Linked DNA regions of Homo sapiens. The protein of the gene in region 1 binds, or shares a complex with, the protein of each later gene. Each region holds a gene or a part of one and is shown on either strand. Other genes may lie near its edges. The genes, in order: DPP3 and AGT.

Region 1 (9,866 bases):
TGACACCCACAGTCATGCAGGGTGGAAGCGACAGGGTCCATGCTCTGCTCAGGGCTTCTGACACTCCAGTTGGGGCTCCTTCTACTGCATTTTCCATCTCTACCCCACCAGCCCCCCATCCCCACCTTCCCCAACCCTCCCTTGGCTCACCTTGGGCAAGTTGGGAACAAACTTGGTGTCACCAAAGGACTTGTAGTTGCCCATGTTGGAGTAAACACCCGCGGCATAGACCAGGAACGCCTGAGGGGGAGGCAGGCATCAGAGACCCAGGAAGCACAGCCTCCCTGACCCCAGCGACACCTCCTCCTGAGATGCGAATGCCCCAGCAGAGCCAGTGTGGGTGAGGCTGGGAAATGTGTGGGCAGGACCTAGGTCCTGGGAAGCCCCAGTCTGGCCCACACTCACTTCCACAGACCCATTTTCACACCCCCGTTGTCTGGCCTAACTGATCTTCTGGGCAGTTCCCAAACACACCCAAGCATTCGTCTGCCTTTTCCCTCCCCACCCCAGCACCCTCTCAGCCACCTGAAGCTACTGTGTCCTTTAAGGCCCAGTTCCAGCAGCACCTCCCTCTTTCTCCAGAGCCTGTCCTCAGCCTCTGACCTGTCAGGCAGCTGGCCTTGGAAGCATCACATGTTAGAGCCGGAGAGGCCTTAATCATCTGTCTATTCTATGGCTTCTGCTGGCCCCAGATCTTCCTCTGGTAACAAGACCTCAATCCTCCTTTTGTGGGTGGGAGGGTGGGGTGGGGGATCTCCCTTCCCCCAGCTCCAGGGGTGGGCATGTAACCTGGCTCAGTCAGTCTGAGAAACCACCATCCTTGGCTACAGGATGGACACAAGGCTCAAGCTGGCATAAGAGAGCTACCCAGGACATTTCCCATTGGCAAAGAGCCTCTGTACACCAGGGATCATCAGGCCTGGAACTCCTGGAGCTCCCCTCCAGGAGTAAGAAAAGCAAGCAAGCTGAGAGACGAAGACTGCATCCCAGTGGTAGCACTGAGTCCGAGTCCAGCCATGCCTGAAACTTCCTCTAGACCTGGACTTTTCAAGCATGTGACCCAACAATTCTCCTTTTCATGTAAGCCAATTTGAGCTGGGTTTCTGCCACTTGCAAACATATGAATTCCCCTAAATGGCCAGGCGTGGTGGCTCACACCTGTAATCCCAAGCACTCTGGGAGGCCGAGGCGGGCAGATCACGAGGTCAGGAGATTGAGACCATCCTGGCCAACATGGTGAAACCCCATCTCTACTAAAAATACAGAAATTAGCTGGGCGTGGTGGTGCATGCCTGTAATACCAGCTACTCAGGAGGCTGAGGCAGGAGAATCGCTTGAACCAGGGAGTTGGAGGTTGCAGTGAGCTGAGATTGTGCCACTGCACTCCGGCCTGGTGACAGAGCGAGACTCCGTCCCCCACAAAAAAAAAAAAGAATTTCCCTGAAAATAATAACGCTTGGGTTGCACCTTTCTGTTTATAAACATTTCCACGGATATTAGCTCTTTTAATGAGTAAGCCAAGGCCTCAAGATGGGAAGTGAATGCCCAAAGTTCAAAAGAGGTAGAATAAACAGTACATCAGCTCAGAGAGAAACAATCCAATCCCTTTATTTCACATATAGAAAAACAGGCCATATTCTTGTACATTCTTGGTGGGAATATAATGCAGTGAAGCTTTTTTAGAAGATGATTTAACAGAATCAGTCAATTGTAAATGTACAGAGCCTTTGACCCAGCAGTTCTTCTAGAAATAGATCCTCCTCACATGTGTGCACAAGTATGCTCACCATGGCACTGTTTGTAAGAAAAACGGGACAAGCTAAATGTCCAGTAATGAAGATTAAATTGATTATAGTGTACACTGCTGTGGAATGCTTTACAGTCAATAAAAAAGAATGAGGTACATTTAAATGTACCCCATTCTCCAAGTTCTTCAAGACATGGCATTCAATGGAAAAAGCAGGACACAAAGCAGGAAAAGAACATTATCTCATTTCTATAAAAAAGAAAATAAGGAACTGATTCACCATGCATATACACATAAATGTATGTAATACACAGATGGGATTGAAAAGGCTGTAACCAAGGCTGGGCACGATGGTTCACGCCTGTAATCCCAGCACTTTGGGAGGCTAAGGCAAGTGGATCACTTGAGGCCAGGAGTTCAAGACCAGACTGGGCAACATGGTGAAAACCCACCTGTACTAAAAATACAAAAATTAGCCCGGTGTGGTGGCACATACCTGTAGTTCCAGCTACTTGGGAGGCTGAGGCATGAGAAGTGCTTGAACCTGGGAGGTGGAGGTTTGCAGTGGGCCAACATTACGCCACTGCACTCCAGCCTGGGTGACAGAATGAGACTCTGTCACAAAAAAAAAATAAAAAATAAAAAAGAGAGAGAAAGAAAAGGCTGTATCAGCCTCAGTGGGTTACCTCTGAGGAGGGCACTGAGAATGAGTGATCTTTGTGTTTTCTTTTGTGTCTTTCTGCATTGCTGCAATGCACTAAGAATTTGTGTATTACTTGGCCAATACATCCAAAAACAAAAACCAAGGGACAGGCAGAACATTCTGCCCAGGGCCACACAGTGTGGTAGAGAAGAACTGGTCCTGAACTCAGACCTCCTGATACCTACTCTGGACTCCTTCTTCTGCCTTCCCTGAATCTCCACCACAGTTTCTTTTGTTATAATCACAGCAGCCATCATTTATCTTGAAGTCAGGCACTGTTCTAAGTGGGTCATCACAACACTAAGAGGTACAGACATCCCACATGCATATTTTACGGGTGAGAAGACTGAGGCTCCAGAGAGGGGAAGTGCCTGAATTTGTAACCTTTGGTCTAATCCTCCACCTACCCCTTGAAAGAGACAGACATTTGCATCCTGGTCTTTCACACCCAGAAGCCACTCAGGTAATGTGGGTTGGCCCAAGAGAACTGACCTGATACTCCTCCTCGGTAAGGCCTTCAGCCAGGGCATGTTGGCGCAGCTGGTCGGGGTCCTGGGCGCGGAAGAGGCGGCTGAGCAGAGCATAGATGTAGGGGGCCTCAGGGGAGGTCTGAAGCAGCACAGCCAGGCCTCCGTACCAGGCGGCACGGGACAGGTGGTAGGCATAGAGGCGCTCTGTGGGTGACAGCAGGCGGAAGGCCTCACGGCAGTCCAGGCTAGACACGCCGATGTCATTGGGCAGGATGTACTGGGTGTCCGCCATGGGCCCTGCTGAGAACCATCACTGTCATCACAGCTGTTGTTTACCCCATACCAATTGCATACCTGGCTCTGAACTCTTATGATCTCATTTAATCCTCCCAAAAGCCCATGTGGAAGGGAATACTATTGTACCCATTCACCAGATATGCTAACTGAGGCTTAGAGAAGGTGAGATGACTCACCCAAGGGGTCACAAAATACACTGGTGGACCATATTTGGTCTGTAGTCCCTAAACCTTAAAGATTGACTCTAAGGTCAGGCATGGTGGCTCACACCTGTAATCCCAGCACTTTGGGAGGCCGAGGTGTGTGGATCACCTGAGGTCAAGAGTTCAAGACCAGCCTGACCAACATGGTGAAACCTCCTTTCTACTAAAAATACAAAAATTAGCCAGGCTTGGTGCCAGGCACCTGTAATCTCAGCTACTGGGAAGGCTGAGGCAGGAGAATCACTTGAACCCAGGAGGTGGAGGCTGCAGTGAGCTGAGACCGCACCATTGCACTCCAGCCTGGGCAACAGAGTGAGACTCCACCTCAAAAAAAAAAAAATTGATTGACTCTAACTACCTAGTATTACAGATGGGGAAACTGAGGTTCAGAGAGGCTAAGAGCCTTGCCTAATCCCACAATGGAGACATCAGCAGCAGAGATCCTCATCTCTAGGCTCCCAGCCCAGGCCCCTCCCTGCTTCCTTGTTCAGTATTATTTTTTTAAGACGGAGTCTCACTTAGTTGCCCAGGCTGGAGTGCAGTGGCATGATCTTGACTCACTGCAACCTCCGCCTCCCGGGTTCAAGCGATTCTCCTGCCTCAGCCTCCAAAGTAGTTGGGACTACAGGCGTGCATCACCATGCCCAGCTAATTTTTTGTATTTTTGATAGAGACGGGGTCTCGCTATTTTGTCCAGGCTGGTCTCGAACTCCTGGCCTCAAGCGATCTGCTTGCCTTGGCCTCCCAAAGTGCTGGGATTACAGGCGTGAGCCACCGCGCCTGGCCTTTGTTCAGAATTCTTTACACTTTCCACTGTGCTCACAAGGATAAAGTGCCAGGCCGCCAGCTGGAAGGCTCAGCCTTTAGCCAGGACTCGGCCCCAGACTCCTAAAAGTCAAGTCCATTGCTTCACTTTTCTGTACCTCCGTTTCCTCCTCTATAAAAGAGAGAATAACCCCAATATTACCAGGTGGGTGCGCTAATCAGATGAAGTCGCCCTGGACGGAAAGTATCCACAGCAATAAATGATTTTGCTTGAAACTGTCCCATTCTCATCCCTCTAAATGCCTTTTCCTTGGCCCTCCATTCTCCTGCTCGCTCCCTGTGCTCCACCAGGGAAGCCACAGAAGTTCACAACCAGAAGAAAGCCCATTTTACAGATAGGGAAACTGAGGCTTGGAAAGGGCAACAATTTACTGAAGGTCTGACAGCCCCGTTGGAACCCGGGGATTCCCCAACCCGGGGCATTCTCCCCGCCACGCCCCGTCCCGGCTGGGACAGAGTGTCCAGCCTCCTCGCCCTGCCCCGGCCTCCAGAAGCCCCGCCCCAATAGCACAGCCTCGAGGTTCGGAAAGGGCTGTTAACTCTTTGCTCCCCGGAGCACTCCTTGGCCTCGAGGGCGGGGTGAATTTGGAGGGGGTACTGGAGAGTGGGCAGAAAGGGAACGATTTTGCGCTCAGTATGGATTCGCCTTGGTCCCCCGGGATGACACGCTTTGACCCCAAAAGCCCAGGCGCCGCGCCTCACCTGCAGCAGCTGCTCCGTTCGCAAACTCACTTCCTGCTTCCGGCTCCCCCATTCATTGGGGCTCTGCGAACCCCGCCCCCCTTGGCCAACTGCCTGGCCTCGGGGTCCGGATGGGCGTCAGTACCAGCCAATAGACGCGCCAAGACGAGCTTCTCGGCTCGCCCGCTCCCGCCCCCAGGCGCTACGGGGTGGCGCGCGGATTGGCCCTGCGGGCTCGGCCTTTTGTCAGCAGGCCGCACACGCGCCGGACCGGGTACCGCTGTGCCCGGCCTGGCCGCGGCCTAGTCCCGGCAGACGGGACTGACGAGGTCACCAAGCCCAGGCCGAGACGGCGCGGGTGTCAGGGACTTGGGAATCCCCCTCCCCCAGTCCCGATCCCGCTTTCCTTTGGGGTTTCACCTCAGAGGACCCGACAGCACTCTTGCAGGTGGGAACCTACACAATAGGAGTAATGTGGCTCCACCTTCCTCTCGGGACTCGGGACCTGGGGGTGGAGACTTGGAAGTTGCAAAGCTCTCGGTGCCGGGAATCGGGGCTACGGTTGAGTGGGATCGGGCCAGGGCTGAGGTGGTCCCACCCGTGTAGGGGCGCGGAGAAACGCCTCGACTGCTTCACTGTACCACCACCCACCCGCCACGGGCCTGGAAGGAGCCGCTAAACATTCCCGAGCCTCAGTTTCCTTAGCACAAACAGGCTGGTAGTTTCCTGGTGCTTGCCAGATGCCTGATGGATGAGAAAGCCTCCTGCGGCCCCGAAAGGGAGTCCAGAGCAGAGGCGGGCCCGCGGTCCACTTTTACAGGTCTGGACGGACTCACGGGACCACGGTCTGGGTGGGGCATGCGGAAGGGCCTAGGCCAAATGGGGAGTAGTGGTGAGGGCCCAGGGTCAGACTGGGGGGTGGAGTGAGGTTGTCTGGGAGTCTTGGCTTTATGAACCGGAAAACCAGGCTAATAATTGAATCCAATCCAAGGGATATTGTAAGTTGTGATGTGTTGACTGCAGTGCCGCTCCCTATAGTTGCGCAGGGTGAGGGGCGTTTGGGTACTGAAATCCCGCACGGTCTCCTTGCTACGCCCGTGTCTAGGCCAGACAGCCTCTGCTTACCATAGACACCAGTTTCTCATCCACAAAGGTGCCCAAGGCCCTGCTTGACACAACAGTGTTACAAGCTGTTAGCTTTGATGATTACTTGTTATATGGGGGAGTTCAACAAGTTGGTCGGTGTCCTTAGGAAAGTCACCCCTCTTCTTTCCTGTGCCTCCGTTTTCATTGTCTTTAAAATGGGTATAAAGTTGGCTGACAGGTGAAGTTGAAATGTGCACAGGTAAGGGAGGTAGTGCTGCCCACTGCCAGCAGGGGGCAGCTCAGGCAAGGAAAAGACCCCAGTGCTCTCAGGACCCCCCAACCAGCTACGTGATCACATTTTTATGATCACAGATAAGATGAGCATATACTGAGGTCCCTTGCTAGCAGTTTGGCATGGAGGACCTCATTTAATTCTTGCAAAAATCCTGAGGTATGATCACTTTACCCATTGTACAGATAGGGAAACTGAGGCTAAGAGGTTCGCCGACTCCTATAACACCACACAGTTCAGATATCCCTGGCCCCAACATAGAGATACACACACACAGTCACTCACATGGAGCAGTCTATCACTGGAGTCATAACTCCCCAGCCTTGGCTCTTCCCCATGGGAATGCAAAAGGGGTCGGTGAGGAGCAACAGTTACGAATCAACTGTGTTACAGGTGCTCTCTGTATATTCACAACCACCTGGCGAGGTAGTGACTGTTATCCCCTTTAGCACTGAGGAAACTGAGGCTCTAACAGCTGGCAAAGGCAGAGCTGGGACAAGACCAGGGCTCTGACCTCCTCCACCAATACCTCTGAATCCTCCCCAGCATCTACTGTGGTGCCCTTTGCTGGTCTTTCCTCCTAGGGTCTGAGGTTCCCCACTGGAAATGGGATCAGAATGTTCCCCTGCCTGGTTCCCAACAGGGTCAGAAGAGAGAACTTGGAAGAGTTGGATTTTGAGTGCTTTGTGTGTTGTGTGTATGTTGAGGGGAGAGAAGTTGGAATGCTCCCACACCTCCTGCAGCATCCCCACCCTCCCCTTCACCCCCACTGCAGCAGTGCCATGCTCTGGAAGCAAGAATCTGATCACACCCTCCTCCTTCTCTCATCACATTCGGGTGCCCTCTGTCTTCTCAATAACCCAGGTCTGATCTCCCTGGCCGCAACCAGCTGTGTGGCCTTGGTCAGGTCCATCCCTCCCCTTGGAATCTGTACTTCCCTAGGCTCTGTCATCTATTGGGGACGATGCCCAGGTCAGGCCTATACTCAGAGCCTTCTTCTCTTCATCTCCAGAACAGCCGTCTGCCTGTCTTCCTGGCTCGCTCCCTGCAGGAATGGTCTGGGGCAACCCCAGCAACACGCCCACCTGTGGCCAGGATGAATAGGAATCCAGTTCAGGCTTGGCTTCCATGGCAATCAAGGCCCACCAGGCCCCAGCAACCTTCCCTACCCCCCATTCCTTTTTGCTGCCCCCCTCCACACCAGGCATGTTCCCTGCCACACCATGCTGTTCCCCTCACCTGGGCTGCCCTCCCAACTCCTCTCTGCCTCTGGAGATGCTCTGCCATTCAAGACTTGGCTCAGGCTCCAGGTCCTCCCTGGGCCTTCTAGAGCCCCTGGTTCTCACTCCTCTGAACACTTCCAGCCTGGCTAATAGCCCACTGCATCCTGGCCTGGGGTACAGGTGGCCAGCACAGGTGTGGGGGCCAGCTTCCAACACAAGCACGGGTAGGTCCCTCTGCAGACCATGGGCTGCAAGAGGCCCGGCCTTGCCCACTGCAGGGGCCCTGCGCAGGGCTGGGCACGAAGCAGGTGGGTGTCCACCAATCTAGTATCCAAAACCCTGCTTGGTTCACCCCCACCTCTGTTGAAGGAAAGCAACACTGTGATGGAGAGGAGCAGCTGTGGATTCAAATCCTGGCTTGGCCACTTTCTAGTTGTGTGACTTGGTGCATCTGCCCTCATCTCCTCAGAGACAAAAATGGCAACACCTCCCTTCTTGGGTTACTATGAGGATTAAATAACAAAACCTCCAAGAAGCAGAGCCCGGTGTCTGGAGAGTGCTCAATGGACGTAGTTATTATTATCATCATCAGCACAGTGCGGGGCACATGGTGGGCATTCAGGGATGATGGCCCTTGTGTCACAGCCGACACTCTTGACCAGTGAGTCCTCTCTCCTCCCTTTGTTGACTCCTGACCGTCCACAAATGAGGTTCAGAATCCTCCATCCAGCATCTTCCCTGGTCACATGGTCCCAACCTTTTGCTCCACCCCCTTCTCTGTTCCCCCCGCAGTCCATGCTCCAGCCATCCTGACTCTGTCCCTGGATTTCTGGCTTACTGACACCTGAGCCTGTGCACAGGCCCTCCCTTCTGTATAGAGCACGCTTCCCATCTTGTGGACTTGCTTCCCATCTTGTGGACTCGGAGGGTTCCGAGCAGCCGTTGAGGCTGAGCTCCTATGACACCTCCTCCGTGAAGCCTCCCTCACTTTTCCATTACCAGTGAGGCCTGCCACAGCCTGATTTGTACTCTGATCCTGGCACGCATGAAGCCGTGTTGCCATTTGTTAACAGTCTGTCCTCCACTAGACTGTGAACTCCACCAGGGGGGGAACCAGGTCTGATTGCCTCTGTGTCCCCAGATACCACTTAGCACAGAGTCGAGCCCATAGTGGCTATCAGCAAGTGCTAGGCCCAGCCTGCCACCCACCCACCACTCACTTGGGGGCTGGAGGCATTGCACGCATGCGGGGCATGTGGGACTTGTGGGGGCAGCTGAGCAGCGAGGTTTATAGAGGAACCCAGGGCGGCAGCAGGAAGGATGAAGGATGAGTGTCTGAAACTGGGTTGGCAGGCTCAGGGCATAGCCAGCCTAAGCTGGGGGTCAAAGGCCCCTGGCCCCTTCACTCCCCCAGGGGCACACAGTGTCGGCGGCACGATGTGGGATGCCCCAGGAAGGGCAAGGCCATGGGGCTGGGCTTTCCTCCATCGACCCAGGACAGAGCTGGTGCTGAAGGCCCCATCAGCATGACTGGGGTGGAGATCTTGGGGACCTCCTTGGGGGGCCACAGTTGGGGGGAAGGGCACAGCCCATCCAACATGTCCATCTGGTGTGGCTGTGCCAGCAGGGAGTGTCCCACATGCAGAGCTCCCTCTGGGCTGCAGGAGGTGGGGACCTGGGTGGGCAGGTGGGCACAGCAGCAGGGGGCCCCAGGGAGCCTAATCCAGCGGGCCCTGGAAAATGAGGCGGACGCAGCCATGCTCGCCGGTAAGCCAGGCCCCGCAAAAGGGGCAGGCGGCATGGAAAGCATGGGTGCCGTGGGGCAGTGGTGTCTGGGCCCAGTAGCGGGCAGTCTTCTCAGAGCAGACGTGGCCGCAAGGTGCAAAGGCATGGCTAGGCGGCCCAGGGTCCAGGCAGAGGCCGGCCTCCTGGCCAAGCCATAGAGGCACATAAGGCCCCACAAGGCGGCAGAGAGGACATTCGCGCTCCTGGGGGCCCCGCTCCCGCCGGCAGCCCCAGCCGTGGTAGCCATGGACGTGCCCGCAGCGGACGTAGACCCAGGGCTGCTGTTTGTCGGGCGCTGTGCGGCCACGGGCTGGGCTGGGGAAGGCCAGAGTGCTGAGGCCCACGGGGCACTGGGGCCGCGCTGCATTTGCCTCCTGCCGCTGGGCCTCCAGTTGCTTCAGTGTGGGAGCCCGCAGCAGCCCCGCCGGTGTGCGCCACAGCAGTGTGGCCCCACACAGGTCGATGAGAGAGCCGTCCTGCAGCACGTTGGACTCGTTTTCCACCTGCCAGAGGCAGTAGAAGGGCCTTACTGCCCAAGAGGCCCCTGCTGAGCC
Region 2 (8,967 bases), on another chromosome or scaffold:
CTCAGAATGTGACCATTATTTGGAGACAGGATCTTTAAAGAGATGATTAAGTTAAAATGAGGCCATGAGGGTGAGCCCTGATCTAATATGACCTGTGTCCTTATGAGAAGAGGAGATGAGGACATGGACACACACAGAGGGAAGACCATGTGGGGACACAGAGGGAAGACCATGTGGGGACACAGAGAGAAGACGGCCATCTACAAGCCAAGGATAGAGGACCCAGAGGAAACCAACTCTGCTGATGGCTGGCTCCCAGGCTTCTAGCTTCCAGAACTGTGAGATAACACATTTCTGTTGTTAAACCCTCCCAGTCTGTGGTACTTATGGCAGCCCAAGCAGATTAAGACATGCTCCTGCCTGCAGCTGTAAGTTCTCTTCCTAGAGAAACAAGTGTGTGCCAATCAGTAGGTCTTTGTGGAGGCCTCCTAGACCCCTGAGATGCTCATTCGAGGGCCCTAGGGTGAGGGCTGGGGATGGTTTTGTCATCTCCCTGTGGTCCCAACATGCAGCCGGGATTGAGCACCACAGGCTCAGCCCAAAGTCCAAGTATTTCCCACGTGTCTCAACCCCAAAACCAGCTCTCAACCATCCCTGCATAGCGCTATCCCCTGCAGAGCCCCAAAGGCATGCATACCTAGCATGGCTTGCCCAATGATAGTTGGATTCCTTAGTCTGTGCTGGGACCACGTATAAAAAAAAAAAAAAAAAAATAGAAAATTCTCAGGTGACTCTGATATGTAAGCAGGGTTTAGAACCCCTGCCCTAGACACGGGTCCAGCACCACGTTCTCTCAAAGGCCTTGCAGCTGGGCTTCAGCCTCAGCTGCTACAAATGAAAGCTACCCTGAGACCCCCAGAAGAGGTTCTTGGGCTGGCCCTGCTAATTCATTTCATCTGACTCTTCTTGATTGAAGGGATGAACGTTTATTCTATTGATTCATTCAATTCTAACATTTTGTACCACATCTCACTCATTTCTTGTGGAGGGGGGTGTACTGCAATATCGTCACTTCTTGGCCTTTTCTGTCCCCCCAGGGCTAGGCCAGGCTTCCTTGGAGCTGTAGCGTGTCATCACTGACTCAAGGCCACCTTGATGCCTAGATTTTTCTGCTTCATCTAAGCATACCCAGTCATTCTTCTTACATTGGCAGCTGGCTTCCCTCACCCAGACCCGTAACCAGCACCTGCCCTCAACACGGTGCAGCTGCTGAAGTACCTGGTGTGTTTTGTTCTGCTTCAGTCATTCAAATGCCAAATTCTGACCTCAGCTACCATCTCACCCCACTCCCCATGCATTTGACTCCATCCGCTGTTCTCAGGAAGAGCCACATGACATGGAAAAATGGAACAGAAAACTCTCTCTGCTGCTTGCAGGCCTTTCTGTGCAGAGAAGCCTAAGCCACCAGTTCACACCTAATCTAGACAGTCACATCAAATCAGGTCAACAGGGGAAACCTGTGGGAACCGACTGCTGGGAAGTCCTGCCTGACAAGCGCCAACTGTTCGGGGTTTGGATGGCGCTGGTCGATGCAGCCCGCTCACTGTGCTGCTCCTGCTCAGGCAGCGTCTCCAGAGACGCAATTCCATGGGCCATTTTTGAGGCAGAGACTGTCGTTTGTTCTCAGTTGTGATCTGCGGCTGCTCCCTAGGCTGGTTCCAGGTCTGCACGCAGCCGCGTCCTGGGAGTAATGGTGCTCTGGGGTGGCGGGCCTGACACCCTCGCCCTGAGTGCCCCTCCGCCTTCTCCTCTCCTGCCCCTGCCTCTTGGCCAGCACCTGCCCCTTCTATGTCTCCCTACTTCTCCCGGGCTGAATGCTAAAGGTGAAGATGACGGCTCATGCTCCTGTGGTGCCTGCCATTTGCAGGGCACTGTTCTCATATCAACCCCTCTGACCTCACCATAGTCCTCACCTTCCCTGAGGTTTCCCTGATGCAGTATTTCACCCTGCAGCTTTCCCCACCACACCGGGCACTCTCAACTCTCTCATCCAGCTCCCCTTTTCCCTCCTTATAACCCTCTGTACCATGTAGTTATGCACTTATTCTGTCCAGCGTCTTTGTCTGTTTGCTCTGATGTGAATGTGAGCCCCGGAACAGGGTTCCCGCTGTTGTGTTTACTAATACAGCCCACATTCCTAGGATAGTCCCTGGGACCTACTGCATCCTGGAGAAGTAGTTAATGAATTGGTTCATGCTGTTTTGCAGAGGAACAGAGAGGTCCAGTGACTTGTTCAACGTCACACAGCTGGGAAGAGACAGAACTAGGACTCAGAACCAGGCCCCCTGACTCTGTCATCCACGAGCTGAAGCACCAATCTACGCTGCCCTCGAATAAAATTGGAATCTGCCTTTTAGCTTATCCCAAAGCTTAGAAAGCACTTTCATGTTATATTAGTTCTCTTCAGCTATACCAGAGCCCCTGAGACAGGGAGCCCAGGCATCGTTATTAGTTCCATTTTATAGGTGAGCAAATCGAGGTTCAGGGAGATGGTGACCAGCCTGATGACACACAGTCAGGCAGTCTGTCTCGAGGGAGGGGTAGGGTGACCACTCTGGGGATCCCAGCTGGAGACTGACCGAGCCCGGCCCTTCCCTCCAGCCCCAATTCCTGCACAAGCCCTGCTATTCCTCCTGATGGCAAGAGGACCCGGTGGACTCTTGGCCATGATGACTCTGTTCCTGTACCAGTCTGCTCCGTTCCTGAGGACCCTAACTTTTCTCAGCGGAAGCAGGAAGACCTGACCATCTTGTCCTATTGCTGAGGAGGAGCAGCTCCTCCTGTAAGACCCCAGGTGGGCACCGAGTGGGGGAAAGCCCGCGTCCGGATGACTGGTCTTATGAGAGGGGAGAGGTTTTTCAGTCATCACCGTGCCTCCTCCCGGCCTTTTCCTCCTAGCCCACAGCTCAGTTACATCTGAGAGAGACAAGACCGAGAAGGAGCTGAGGGGGCCCCCGGCTTACCTTCTGCTGTAGTACCCAGAACAACGGCAGCTTCTTCCCCCGGCCGGGTCACGATGCCCTATTTATAGCTGAGGGGTGGGGATGGAGCTGTTCCCAGGCTGCCTGTGCACAGGCTGGAGAGGAGGGTTACATCACTTGGCCAGACCACAGGCTGGCCAGAAGGACAGATGCCAGAAGCGACACTCACGCTGGGACCTCTTCCAGGAAGTCTTAGTGATCGATGCAGAGTTTCACTGCTGAACAGAGTGAGCCGGTGCAGGGTCGAGTTACACATTTACCGAAGTTTGCAGGAGTCGGGGCCAAGGTTCCCAGAAACGGGAGCATCTCCCTAGGTGTGTGACAGCCTGAGGCCAACCACCCAGGCCTTCTGACCCAGCCCCGGGAGATGTACCCCCAAGAGGCCACAGGGACATGCAGGCCGGAGGTGCAGAGGGCAGAGGGCAGGGGAGAGTCTTGCTTAGGCAACACGGGGGCCACTTCTGACCCTGCTGCCCGCTCATGGGATGTGTGACCTTCAGCTGCTCCAAAGAGCCTACCCTGTGCAAAGGCCTCTAATAGACACTGGGGAAAACACACAAGCAAGTGAAAAGTGCCTTCTGGAAGTTTCCAGTGTAGCTGGGGAGACTGTTAAACACCAACAATAGCACAGCCAGATTGAAAGACACAAACAAAATGCCTTCAGGATGCAGGCATTGAAAGATGTGCTGTTCTGTGTTTATGCTGTACAAATTGCAAATGGTAAGTTTCACATGACCAGTAAAAGGGTTATAATTCTTATTTTCCTATAGGTAAGACTTGCTTTTGTAGTCATTATAACAGGGCATGACAGAGACCTTGGTGAGAGTCGCCAGAAGCCAGTGATCACAAGTGACGCAGTGGGTGAGGCAGGTTGGGAGTGGTGATGTGTCCAGCCTTAAATACATGGTATTAGGGCACTGAAGGGACAGGAAGGAAGATCCTGCTTCAACACAAGCAGGTTCAAGGAGCCACGGCATATCCACGATGGCAGACATGAAATTACCCAGGAATGGAACATTTAACAACAAAGAGCAGGAAGAGATGGTGCCTGGATATGAGGCAGAAGCTGTACATTCACTGACTGAACAATCAACAAACACACAAATACCTCTTTTTTACCCATTACTCTAAATCTTCATTTAAAAAAATCATATCTCACATGGGCCTGTAAATTCTGAAATACATTTTTTTAATTACTTTGTTCCTATAGATAGGGACTCCTCAAAAATCACTTGTCTGGGGCCCCACAGCGACTTAGAGGTGGCTTTGTCTGAACAGAACATTCGGGCCAGGTACAGTGCCTCGCATCTGTAATTCAAACACTTTTTGAGGCCAGGAGATGGAGGTTACAGTGAGCTATGATTGCACCACTGCACTCGAGCCTGGGCTACAGAGTAAGACTCTGTCTCTAAATAAATAGACAATTTTAATTTAATTTTTTTAAAATAAGAGACCATTCAAAGTGCTCCTGCCTGCGAATGGGTTAGTTGGAACAGTAGAGACTGGGGTCCTAGGCCTGGCTGTGCCACTAACTAGTTGTTTGAGGATCAGCAAGTGGTTTAACTGCAGTAACAAGTCCACCTGGACACAAGGGGGAGGTAAGGATCTAGCACTGATTAAGCAACAACCTTGTGCCCAGTGTTTAAATATTTCGGCTCTTTAAAGCCTCACAATTTGTTTCATTCACTCACTATTCCTGGTGCTCAGCATATGTCAGGGAACAAAACAAAGATCCTGGTCTTTGGGAGAGTTTCCACTGTGCCTGGGCCTCCTGCCTCGGGCCCTTGGAATGATCACTCCATTCAACAGCAAAGATAATAAACAACTGATCAGGTAACATGCTGGAAAGTGGTGTAAAAGAAAATAAAATTTCAGGACCCTCTAAATTTGGCCTCTAAGCAAGCCAAACTTCTCTTAATAATGACACGTTACTGGGGAGAACATAAGAAAATAATTTTGGTTAGATTGGACCCAATAAAGAATATCTGCTTAAACTTGTTGCAAGATTGGTTAAAAGCCCTTAATCCATGCCCAAGGCTGACTATCAGCTGGGGGATCTTCTACGTAAGGCTTTAAAGCTCATTAAAATCAATCAGAAAATTGCTAGAGAATTTTATTGAGAATGTAAATTATTCCCATAAGGAGCAGCCATTCAAACTGACTGCAGACATTTGACCCAGCTCAGATTCAGGCCAGTTTTCTTCCCAGTAGGCACCTTCTGTGTTCATTCCATCAGTGGAAGTTTCTTATGTGTACATTCCATCAGTGGAAGTTAGGGACAGAGCTTATCTGTGGCTAAATGAAGACTGTTGAATGAAAAGCAGAGGTTCTACATAGAAACCAAATAAGCCATCTGATATGGTTTGGCTGTGTCCCCACCCAAATCTCCAATTGTAGCTCCCATAATTCCCATGTGTCATGGGAGGGACCCAGTGGGAGGTAATTGAATCATGAGGGTGGATCTTTCTGATGCTGTTCTTGTGATAGTGCATAAGTCTCATGAGATCTGATGGTTTTATAAAGGGGAGTTCCCCTGAACATGCTTTCTCTCTTTTGCCAGCCACCATGTAAGATGTGCTTTTGCTCCTCCTTCACCTTCCACCATGATTGTGAGGCCTCCCCAGCCACGTGGAACACATAAGTCCATTAAACCTCTTTTTCTTTATAAATTACCCAGTCTCTGGTATGTCTTTATTAGCAGCGTGAGAACAGATACCATCAGTCAGAATCGGATCCAGGAAACCAGCCACATATGGAGTCAGCAGAGCATGATGTATTAGTCAGGCAGGTGCTATTGGGATATGTAGGGAAAAAAAAGAGAGATCAGACTGTTACTGTGTCTATATAGAAAGGGAAGACATAAGAGACTCCATTTTGAAAAAGAGCTGTACTTTAAACAATTGCTTTGCTGAGATGTTGTTAATTTGTAGCTTTGCCCCAGCCACTTTGACACAGCCCTAGATCCCTTAAACCTTGATTTTATACAACACATGTTTTTGTGAGCTCCAGGTTGGGTCAAAGTGGCTGGGGCAAAGCTACAAATTAACAACATCTCAGCAAAGCAATTGTTTAAAGTATAGCTCTTTTTCAAAATGGAGTCTCTTATGTCTTCCCTTTCTATATAGACACAGTAACAGTCTGATCTCTCTTTCTTTTCCCTACAGGGATGATGACGTTTGGGATCAGTTCTACTCTGTGGTTTCTGAGATGAGACTTGGTCTAAACTAGAACTCCTACTTTCCAATCTCTTGACCACCCAGCTAGTCATGGGATGAACACATAAACTCCTCTCTCCAGCAAAACTAAACCAAACCAGGAAAGCAGATTATTTATTTATGTATATGATGCAATCAAACCTGGAACCAGCTGTATGAGGTAAGGAAAGAATGAAGGGTAAATACAGGAATGGGGTTTCCATTTTTTGCCTCTGAGCCAAAACTAATTGTTTCACAGGAGCCTTGTTCTCTGCTGGGATCAGAACTGCAACCCCACATCATGCCTTGGAAGAGGCATGTGAGCCCTGAACATCATTTACTGGAAAGCAGGAAGAGGGGTGGAGCCTACTGTCCTGCATCCCATGATGGATCCTTGAAGTTCCAAGTTTTCCTTGCATGACAAGGACACTTCCCAGCATTTCTGGTCCTCATTGCTGCCCATCTATATCATGGGGGCTGGAACCGGGCATTTGGAGCTCTCGATTTGTAAAATGGGCTCATTAGGGAAAAGTCCATTTCTTTCCAATAAAGAACACTCAAATACAAACAGAATTTTCTTAAGTTGGCTCACATGGGCTTTAGACTCCTGACAAATAAAACAAAATAGTCTGAGCTCCCCCATTTCACCCAGGAGAAATGGCTGTATTTTTGTGTGTTGTTTTAGAGTTGGGGTCTTGCTCTGTCCTCCAAACTGGAGTGCAGTGGCATGATCATGTCTCAAAGAATCCTCCTGCCTCAGTCTCCAGAGTAACTAGGACTACAGGTGCATGCTACCATATCTGGCTAATTTTTTTATTTTTATTTTTTGTAGAGATAGGGTCTTGCTATGTTGCCCAGGCTGATCTTGAACTACTGGTCTCAAGTGATCCTCCTACCTCAACTTCCCAAAGTGTTGGGATTACAGGCATAAGCCACCATTCTCAGCCTGTTCTTTCTTTTTTAATAATAATTTTTATTGTATTTATATAAGGTGTACAGCATGATATTTTGATATGAAGATAGTAAAATGATTATGGTAGTCAAGAAAATTAACATATCCATCATCTCACAGTTACTCATTTAGGTGGCAAGGACACGTAAAGTCTACTCTTTTAGCAAAAATCCCAAGTGCAATGTGACATTTTTAAGTATAGTCCTCATGTTGTACGCTGGATCTCTAGACTTGTTCATCGTATATATCTGCTGCTTTGTATCATTTGACCTACATCTCCTCCCTGCTCTCCTCCTCAACTCCTGGTAACCACTGTTGTATTCTCTATCTCTGTATATTCACTTTAAAAAAAAAAAAGATTCCACATATAAATGAGGTCATGCAGTATTTTCCTTTCTGTATCTGCCTTGTTTCATTTAGCATAATGTCTTCCAGTCATCCATGTTGTAGCAAGCGGCACAGTTCCACACCGCTTTTTTTTTTTTTTTTTTTGTGAGACAGGGTCTCACTTTGTCACCCAGGCTGGAGTGCAGTGGCACAATCATGGCTCACTGCAGTCTTGACCTCCCTGGCTTAAGTGATCCACCCACCTCTGCCTCCCTGGTAGTTGGGACTACAGATGCATGCCATGACACCTGGCCAACTTTTTTGTACTTTTTTGTAGAGACAGGGTTTCACCATGGTGCCCAGGCTGGTCTCAAACTCCTGAGCTCAAGTGATCTGCCCACCTCAGCCTCCCGGAGTGCTGGGATTAAGACATGAGCCACCATGCCTGGCCTTTATGCTTTTTTGAAGGCTGAATAGTATCCCATTGTGTGTATACAGTATGCCAAATCTTTATCTATTCATCTGTTGACAGACAGAAGTCGTTTCCATATCCTGGCTATTGTGAATAATGCTGCATTGAACTTGGGAGTGCAGATATTGTTACTAGGTGTTGACTTTATTTCCTTTGGTATATTCCCAGATGCCTGCTCCTCCTATTGAATCCTTTTAGACATCACCTGATACCTCGGGCAGTGCCCTATGGACTGCTGTTGATTCAGACATAGCTGTCCATGAGCTGGAGGAAAACGGTCATATAAGATAAAGTTCTGGGAAATTTTGTGATTGCAGCACATTTCTTTCTATTTTTTATTATTATTATTATCATTATGTTTTTTTTTTTTTTTTTTTGAGACGGAGTCTCGCTCTGTCGCCCAGGCTGGAGTGCAGTGGCGGGATCTCGGCTCACTGCAAGCTCCGCCTCCTGGGTTCACGCCATTCTCCTGTCTCAGCCTCCCTAGGAGCTGGGACTACAGGTGCCCGCCACCATGCCCAGCTAATTTTTTGTATTTTTAGTAGAGACGGGGTTTCACCGTGTTAGCCAGGGTGGTCTCGATCTCCTGACCTCGTGATCCGCCTGCCTCGGCCTCCCAAAGTGCCGGAATTACAGGCATGAGCCACCACACCTGGCTAATTGCAGCACATTTCAAAAGTTATAACCAAGCCAATGGCTTTTCTTGTCAACAGTTGCAGATTTATAAATAAGAAATGAGTCGTTTACCTCTATCAATGTCAACATTAGCTGACATAATTAGTGAATCCAGTTTCAGGTACTTATGAAAAATGGTGTTATCAAGCAAAAAGTGATTGCTGCCTGATGCACTAGAAGCCAGTGCTATGACTCTGGGTTTTTGACAAAAGAAAAGCTTTCTATTGCAACAGGGGTCAAGCTCAAACCTGTCTCCCTGAGATGGCTTTAAGGCAGGGCATAATTTTATTAGAAAAGGTTTAGGGGGTGGATATTGGGATTGTAGGTGATTAGTGAAAGGAAAGGGGAGGCCTAGAAAATCCTCAG

The links.
Region 2: the proteins of DPP3 (region 1) and AGT are in contact, whole or in part, in a crystal structure (PDB 5E2Q), measured with the Homo sapiens proteins. Residues at the interface, in NP_005691.2 of Homo sapiens: Phe109, Glu316, Tyr318, Glu329, Phe381, Gly385, Ile386, Pro387, Ala388, Gly389, Ile390, Asn391, Ile392, Asn394, Arg399, Val412, Leu413, Val415, Ala416, Phe443, Val447, His450, His455, Glu507, Glu508, Asn545, Arg548, Leu552, Glu555, Phe556; in NP_001369746.2 of Homo sapiens: Asp25, Arg26, Val27, Tyr28, Ile29, His30, Pro31, Phe32.

What each region holds. Positions count from the first base shown.
Region 1 is NC_000011.10:66,475,547-66,485,412, reverse strand, and holds the start of DPP3 (dipeptidyl peptidase 3), read right to left. Parts: upstream 4,980-9,866; 5' UTR 4,948-4,979; intron 3,221-4,947; 5' UTR 3,213-3,220; coding exon 2,943-3,212; intron 241-2,942; coding exon 151-240; intron 1-150. Other genes in the region: PELI3 (E3 ubiquitin-protein ligase pellino homolog 3), read right to left, coding at 9,246-9,815. UniProt on the Homo sapiens protein: Cleaves and degrades bioactive peptides, including angiotensin, Leu-enkephalin and Met-enkephalin. Also cleaves Arg-Arg-beta-naphthylamide (in vitro).
Region 2 is NC_000001.11:230,711,123-230,720,089, forward strand, and holds the start of AGT (angiotensinogen precursor), read right to left. Parts: upstream 3,001-8,967; 5' UTR 2,964-3,000; intron 1-2,963. UniProt on the Homo sapiens protein: Essential component of the renin-angiotensin system (RAS), a potent regulator of blood pressure, body fluid and electrolyte homeostasis.